Homo sapiens: one gene and its partner. The protein of the gene in region 1 interacts with the protein of each later gene in a pairwise test. Each region holds a gene or a part of one and is shown in the gene's direction. Other genes may lie near its edges.

Evidence for each region.
Region 2: the proteins of ARL14 (region 1) and ARL14EP interact in binary tests that used the Homo sapiens proteins (3 or more experiments, as listed by UniProt).

What each region holds. Positions count from the first base shown.
Region 1 is NC_000003.12:160,675,955-160,678,948, forward strand, and holds ARL14 (ADP-ribosylation factor-like protein 14), read left to right. Parts: upstream 1-1,205; 5' UTR 1,206-1,392; coding exon 1,393-1,971; 3' UTR 1,972-2,494; downstream 2,495-2,994. UniProt on the Homo sapiens protein: GTPase that recruits MYO1E to MHC class II-containing vesicles via the effector protein ARL14EP and hence controls the movement of these vesicles along the actin cytoskeleton in dendritic cells.
Region 2 is NC_000011.10:30,325,870-30,329,903, forward strand, and holds part of ARL14EP (ARL14 effector protein), read left to right. Parts: intron 1-1,136; exon of another isoform or gene 1,137-1,189; intron 1,190-4,034.

The sequences.
Region 1 (2,994 bases):
GCTGTTTTTAGTCCTTTATTTCACCCCTTCTGTCTGCCATACCTGTCACCTCTTGTCTATCTCCTCTGCATCAGCACTCCAAGCCTTGGCTTTATCCTGCTATATCAGTTATCACTCATTTTTCCATCTAGTTTCCATTTTCCAGAATTTTGTTAAAATTTCTGACCCTTTGATGAATTATCTTGCTGTTTTGTTATGGATTTATATGTTTTTTTTGTTTTTTTTTTTTTGAGACGGAGTGTCTCACTGTCACCAGGCTGGAGTGCAGTGGTGCGATCTCGGCTCACTGCAACCTCCGACTCCCTGGTTCAAGCGATTCTCCTGTCTCAGCCTCCCAAGTAGCTGAGATTATAGGCACGGGCCACCACGCCCAGCTAATTTTTTTGTATTTTTAGTAGAGATGGGGTTTTACCATGTTGACCAGGCTGGTCTTGATCTCCTGGCCTCATGATCCACCCACCTCGGCCTCCCAAAGTGTTGGGATTACAGGCGTGAGCCACCATGCCTGGCCTATATGTTCTTTTAATGCCTTTACCATTATTCTGTGGAGTCTTGGGAAGGAGAGGAAATAAATGCATGTTTTTATTTGCCATCTTTAATTGGACTGCTTAATGTAAAACTGTTCGTGTTATAAATTCCCCCTCATATATTTGGTTTTGTGACTGCAGTAGTGTAAATTCTCTGCCTAGAATTTTAAAGAAAGTGATTCTGTATGTGATTAGGGAGTAAGGTTCAGATAACCTTGAGTGGTTTAAAGTTTCCTACTGAGTAATCTGAACAAGGCGGATTTAAGATACTGCAGACAGAGTGTGAGAATAACTCTCTCTTCACAACTTAAGAAGCCTGGTTCCTTATTTACAACTGGGATAAGATAAATGGTTGAATACCTAGAGAAGTTCCACAAAAAGTTACACAAAAAGTTTAGTTAAATTTAAGTTAAAAGTTAGTTAAAATGAAAAGTTAAGTTTTTATTCTGCTACTAAACCATGCTCCTCTGCGTGTCTGAACCTTCAGGTTCCTCTAGATTTCTAGCACCTGAAAGAAAACAAAACTGCAGCATCAGCCAGGTAGGCCTCTCCTAATCTTACTCATTCACAGAGAATTTCCCCTTTGAGTCACCATGGCATTGGCTGGTTACTCATACCACAGATCCCTCAGGATTGGCTGGGACTGCAAATAAAATACTGTTTGCCCATAATCAAGTTGATAAGCTACAACATAAACACATCTAGGTTCTTGTTCTTAGAATACAGCATGAAGAATTTGCTTTCTTCTTTCTTCCTAACATTTTCATGTGAGATCCAGAAAGGACACATTGTCTCTGGCCATTCGAAGAAAGAAAGAAAGAAAAAAAAAAAAGGTATTTAGAGACAGAGAGAGAAAAAGGCTGAAATGGGTTCGCTGGGTTCTAAAAATCCGCAAACCAAACAAGCCCAAGTTCTTCTTTTGGGACTTGACTCAGCTGGGAAGTCTACTCTCCTTTATAAATTAAAGCTTGCTAAGGATATTACCACCATCCCTACAATAGGTTTCAATGTGGAAATGATCGAGTTGGAAAGGAATCTTTCACTCACAGTCTGGGATGTTGGAGGACAGGAAAAAATGAGAACTGTTTGGGGCTGTTACTGTGAGAACACCGATGGGCTGGTGTATGTTGTGGACAGTACAGACAAACAGCGACTGGAAGAGTCTCAGAGACAGTTTGAGCACATTTTGAAGAATGAACACATTAAAAATGTGCCTGTTGTTCTATTAGCCAACAAACAAGACATGCCTGGAGCTCTGACTGCTGAGGACATCACCAGAATGTTCAAAGTGAAGAAGCTTTGCAGTGACCGGAACTGGTATGTGCAACCCTGCTGTGCCCTCACAGGGGAGGGGCTGGCCCAGGGGTTCAGGAAATTAACTGGATTTGTGAAGAGCCACATGAAATCAAGAGGAGACACTTTGGCGTTCTTCAAGCAGAACTGAGGCTGCGAAAAATCCAAGTCTCTACAGAGACACTGATGAAGTTGAAAGGGTAATTGTTTTTCCATGCCAAATGAGGAAATCAAATTAATGAGTTGACAAACTTTTCCTGAGATGTTATTTCATCTACATTTAGTTAAACAACTTAGAATGATATCTAGAAAATATTTATTTTCAGCCAGGAACTTTAGCAAACTGTGGCAATGATCACTGGGAATGAAAACGTATAATGTTCTACAATTTTTGTTATCACATTGGATGACTTTGAATATAGTAGTGACACTTGGGACCAAATAAATTATTTTATATGACTACTAGAACAAAGTTTTAGTAAGCTGTCTGCTAATAGAGTCAGAATTCTTCCAGATTGTTTCCAGCTGTAACAGGTATTGAATTTCCACCGTGCTCCTATGTAACAGCTGGGTGGTGTAAAAAATGAACTTCAAATTATGGAGTGGAAAAAGCGTAATGTTAATATCTTGTAAATTCGTATTCCCTATTAAATAAAGCTTTCTTATTCCCTAAATAAAGCTGTTCTTCTGGATTCCTGCCAGCTTTTTGAAATCTATTGCTGGGAACTTCCTCCAATGAATCTTAAACAATGAACTTCAGGCTGCTAATTGCTCAGAGCCTGTGTTCTGCCATAGGGAGCAGAAGTGTATAAACTTAAAGGTCTGGTGATCGGGGTAGCACCTTGGAGTTTAGGGCAAGATCTGGGCTCAGGGCTTAGCTCTAGGCTACAGCCCCGAGTCTTGCTTCCTTGGAATTCAGCTTAACAGCCATTGCTTGGAAACATATGTGCAGCTCATTGTACTGATCAAACAGGAACCAGACCTAGACTTTGCTCTCAGAGACCTACAATTCACAGCAGGAAACAACATAAAGCTAGTAGCTAGAGTAGGGCAATAAGTGCTAAGTGCGATTGCAGGAGATACTCTTTTTAACCAGGGAAACAAGAAATGTTTCATGCAGGAGATGGTATTTTAGAGGGTCCCTCACTCCCAGTGACCCTACAAAGGTACAGGT
Region 2 (4,034 bases), on another chromosome or scaffold:
AATACAGACAATTATTTTGCATTGCTGTTGGTTATCTACAGTTGACAGTTGTAAAATAGCTCCAAGATGCTGAAAGAATCAGACTTCCCATGTAATCAGAATGTGAAAACCTGAAAGGCTGTGCTCTCAACAGTGCAGTTTTCTATTGAAGCAGATGTTTTTCTCTGTCCTTAGTGTATCGAATTTAAATCTCCTCTCCCTCAATAATCTTCCCTAGAGTTAGACTTCCTGTAAGGCAAATACATATCTGTGTTTTTCTTACTCTTTTTTGCTATCTTCTATAAAATATAGAAGATATCAAAACATTTTAAATTTAAATTTTTTAATTGAATTATCTGAAGCAGTACATAGCAAACTGTAATGTGCTTACAAATCACTTGGGTATCTTTTTGAAATGCAGATCCTGACTCATTGGGTCTGGAGCTGATACTGAGATTCTGTATTTCTACTGAGGTCTCAGCTGATGCCAGTGCTGATTCAGGGAGAGTAAACAGTAATGCATTTCCAACTATATTAAGGAAGGGGCCAGATAAATCATCGTTATGGAAGAACATAGCACTGTACTGTAGGTGAAAGGAACAATATGAACTTGCTGGACTGTCATTTGAAGAAAACAAAATATAAACTGTAGGCCACATTGCCAGAACACAGACCAAAATGAGCAAAAACAGTTGCTAGGAAACAGGCCCAAATGCAGAACTTTAGCTTATAGGAGGAAGTCAGAAAGAGCTGGAAATGAGAACATTGAGGAATATAACAGAGGAGGAACAACCAGAGGGTGTGATTTTTAGAATGCAAACAGTGACCACTTAGGATCAGTGTCTGAAATTTGGTGTTCCTTGAGCTAGCTGGACTTGGACTCTTTGACAGTATGTGAACAAACTGCCTAATCGTAGATCAGAAAGCTAACCTATGGAAGACTTTAAAACTACCTTGACTCAGGTGTGTGCAGTTTTACTCAGGTGTGTGCAGTTTTACTCAAGTGAGTGGGATTAGTTTGCCGCTGAATTTTAATCTGTGTAAAATTTAGTTTTTATCACAGTTGGCAATGTCTTCTATCAGATAGGATATTTTAATTTTAAAATGAGCTGATCCTGTAAAGAAGTAATTCGTTGTCTGAAATTCAAATCTAACAGGGCATCCTGCGTTTTTTATTTGCCAAGTCTGGTGACCCCATTTTCTGCATCCAGTAAGTAGAGATCTTTGGTGCTAGCTCAATGTGCTGCCTGTTACTAAGAAAAACTGAACTTCCTGTAAACAACTTACAGGACCCACCTACTCAGAAGGCTGAGGTGAGAAGATCACTTGAGGCCAGGAATTTCAGAAATAGGTATTCAACTTCACTGGCACAAGTTACAGAGTCTATTCCATTAGTTTCCTTTAATCATGATGAACTCTGTTGAATTTTGTAGTAATTTAGCCATGAATAAAGGAAACTAATGGAACAGAGACTCCCCAATAACTAAGGAAAAGAATTTTTTACCTAAAATTAAAATTAATAGAGTAAATGAAATTACCCTAAAGGGTAAAAATGTATTATTACTATGGACAGATAAGGTTTCTAAAGTAATTAGTTTCCTAAATCCAAGATGCTTTTCCTATCAAATATGACCATGGTAGCCCAAGTTTTGAATATTAGGAAATAGCTTTATGGCAAAAAAAGTTCCATTATAGATCTGTGGCTAAAAACTGGTGATGATTACCTCCAAATAAAAAGAATCTCTGGCATTAACAAAATACTAAGCATTATTTTCTGTACAGTGATGAGGGATAGTTGTCCTAGTTTCCCTTGTATTAAGAAAGGTCAGGCCAGGCACGGTGGCTCATGCCTGTAATCCCAGCACTTTGGGAGGCTGAGGCAGGCGGATCACGAGGTCAGGAGATCGAGACCATCCTGGCTAACATGGTGAAACGCCATCTCTACTAAAAATACAAAAAAAAAAAAAAAAAGCAAAATTTAGCCAGGCGTGGTGGCGGGCACCTGTAGTCCCAGCTACTCTGGAGGCTGAGGCAGGAGAATGGCGTTAACCCGGTAGGTGGAGCTTGCAGTGAGCCAAGATCTCGCCACTGCACTCTAGCCTGGGCGACAGAGCGAGACTCCGTCTCAAAAAATATATATAAAAAATAAGAAAGGTCAAAGCCAGATTGTGTCCCTTATTTGCTAATATACATTGCCACATAGTTCGTTGCCTTGTAACTTTACCTCTGATTTCCTTTTTCTCCTCCTTAATTTATCTTAATCCAATTATCTGTTTGAAGAAAAAAAAAATTTTTTTTATTTTTTTATTTTTTGAGATGAGAGTCTCGCTTTGTCGCCCGGGCTGGAGTCCAGTGACACGATCTCGGCTCACCGCAACTTCCGCCTCCTGGGTTCAAGCGATTCTCATGCCTCAACCTCCCATATAGCTGCACTACCACACCTGACTAATATTTTTGTATTTTTAGTAGACACGAGATTTCACTATGTTAGCCAGTCTAGTCTAGAACTCCTGGCATCAAGTGATCAACCCACATTGGCCTCCCAAAGTGCTGGGATTACAGGCAGGAGCCACAATGCCTGGCTAGAAGAAACTTTTCTAATTATTACTGTGATAGAAGCCATTTTATCTGATTTGATTGGGACCTGTATTAGTTCATTTTAAAAACTGACTAAAACACAGTAAATGAATATAAATATACTCTGTTTTTACCAGCTTTAAAACTTTTTTCAGTTAAAATGTTCAGTAACATATTTTAACACTTTAAAGTGTATTTTATTTTTTAACTTTGTAAATACAGTATTTTGACCTAAAACACAGACATTTATTCGCCATTTTTTGTTACCTGAGGCCAGAGTCTTCTTTTTATATGATTTTGCTGATTATTGTTTTTCTCTGCAGAAACCATATCAAAATGTGTTTAAGATTTCTCTCCAGTTTTTGTTTTTTTTTTAATTTTGCAAAGCTTAAAAACACTTGTAAAATTGCTGAATCCTAGACTTCACAGTCCCTCCCTACCACTCAGATTTCAGTGGTTCACATTTTTTCTCAACAGCAGATTTTTTCCTAATGAGTTGCATTGGTTGCATATTTTCTTGAGAATCCAACTTTTTTTTTTAATTTGCTTTGAAAATTATTTATGAAAAATTTCAAATAGAAAGTATGGACAGTAGTGAAGCACTTATGTACATGTCACCAAACCTTATTTTCTGTAAATCTTTTTGGGGAAAATAATGTTTTTTCCCCTCAGAAGTATCCACAAATGTGATATATGTTACTCTTATGTATATTTTAGTATATATTCATGTTTCATCTGTAAATCTTATGTACTATCTTATCTTTTTAAATTTTACCTTTAATGATGATACTATATAACCTTTACAACTTTTTTCACTTAAGATTGTCTTTGAGATTTATTCATGTTGATTCACGTAATTCATGTAGTTTATTCATTTTAACTGTTATGTGGGAGTCCCTTGTATGAGTAACGATTTCACATCCTTTACAATTAGGTTATTTGTCATCTTTCACTGCCAAAGGCAGTGAATGCTGAAAGTTTTCGTATATAACTTGTGCTCTTATTGGAGATATTTTTCTCCATCTGACACCCAGAACTGAAAAGAGCTGAGTCCCAAGGTGTATGCTTCCTCAGTTTTACAAGAAATTGCAGAAAATGTTCTAAAGCAGTTGCAGCAATTTACATTCCTACCAAAGTTATTATAAGGAGCATGTGAGAGTTGGACACATCTTAACCAGATATCAGATTTTTAAATTGATTTCAAGCAAATGTTTAATAAATGATATTTAATTTGCATTTTCCTAGGAACTATGGGGGAAACAGTTTGTATGCATGTATTGGCTTTTGTTCTCTTTCTCTGTGAATTGCCTGACTATATTTGTTTAGTTTTCCAGTGGACTCTGTCATTTTCTAATTGATTTTTGGAAGTGAGGAGTTACTCGAATATTTATGATAATAATCCTAACACCTTTCAAGTGTCTTTTTTTTTCTCCTTTAGTTATACAGAAATGTGTAAATTTTACATATAATCAAATATA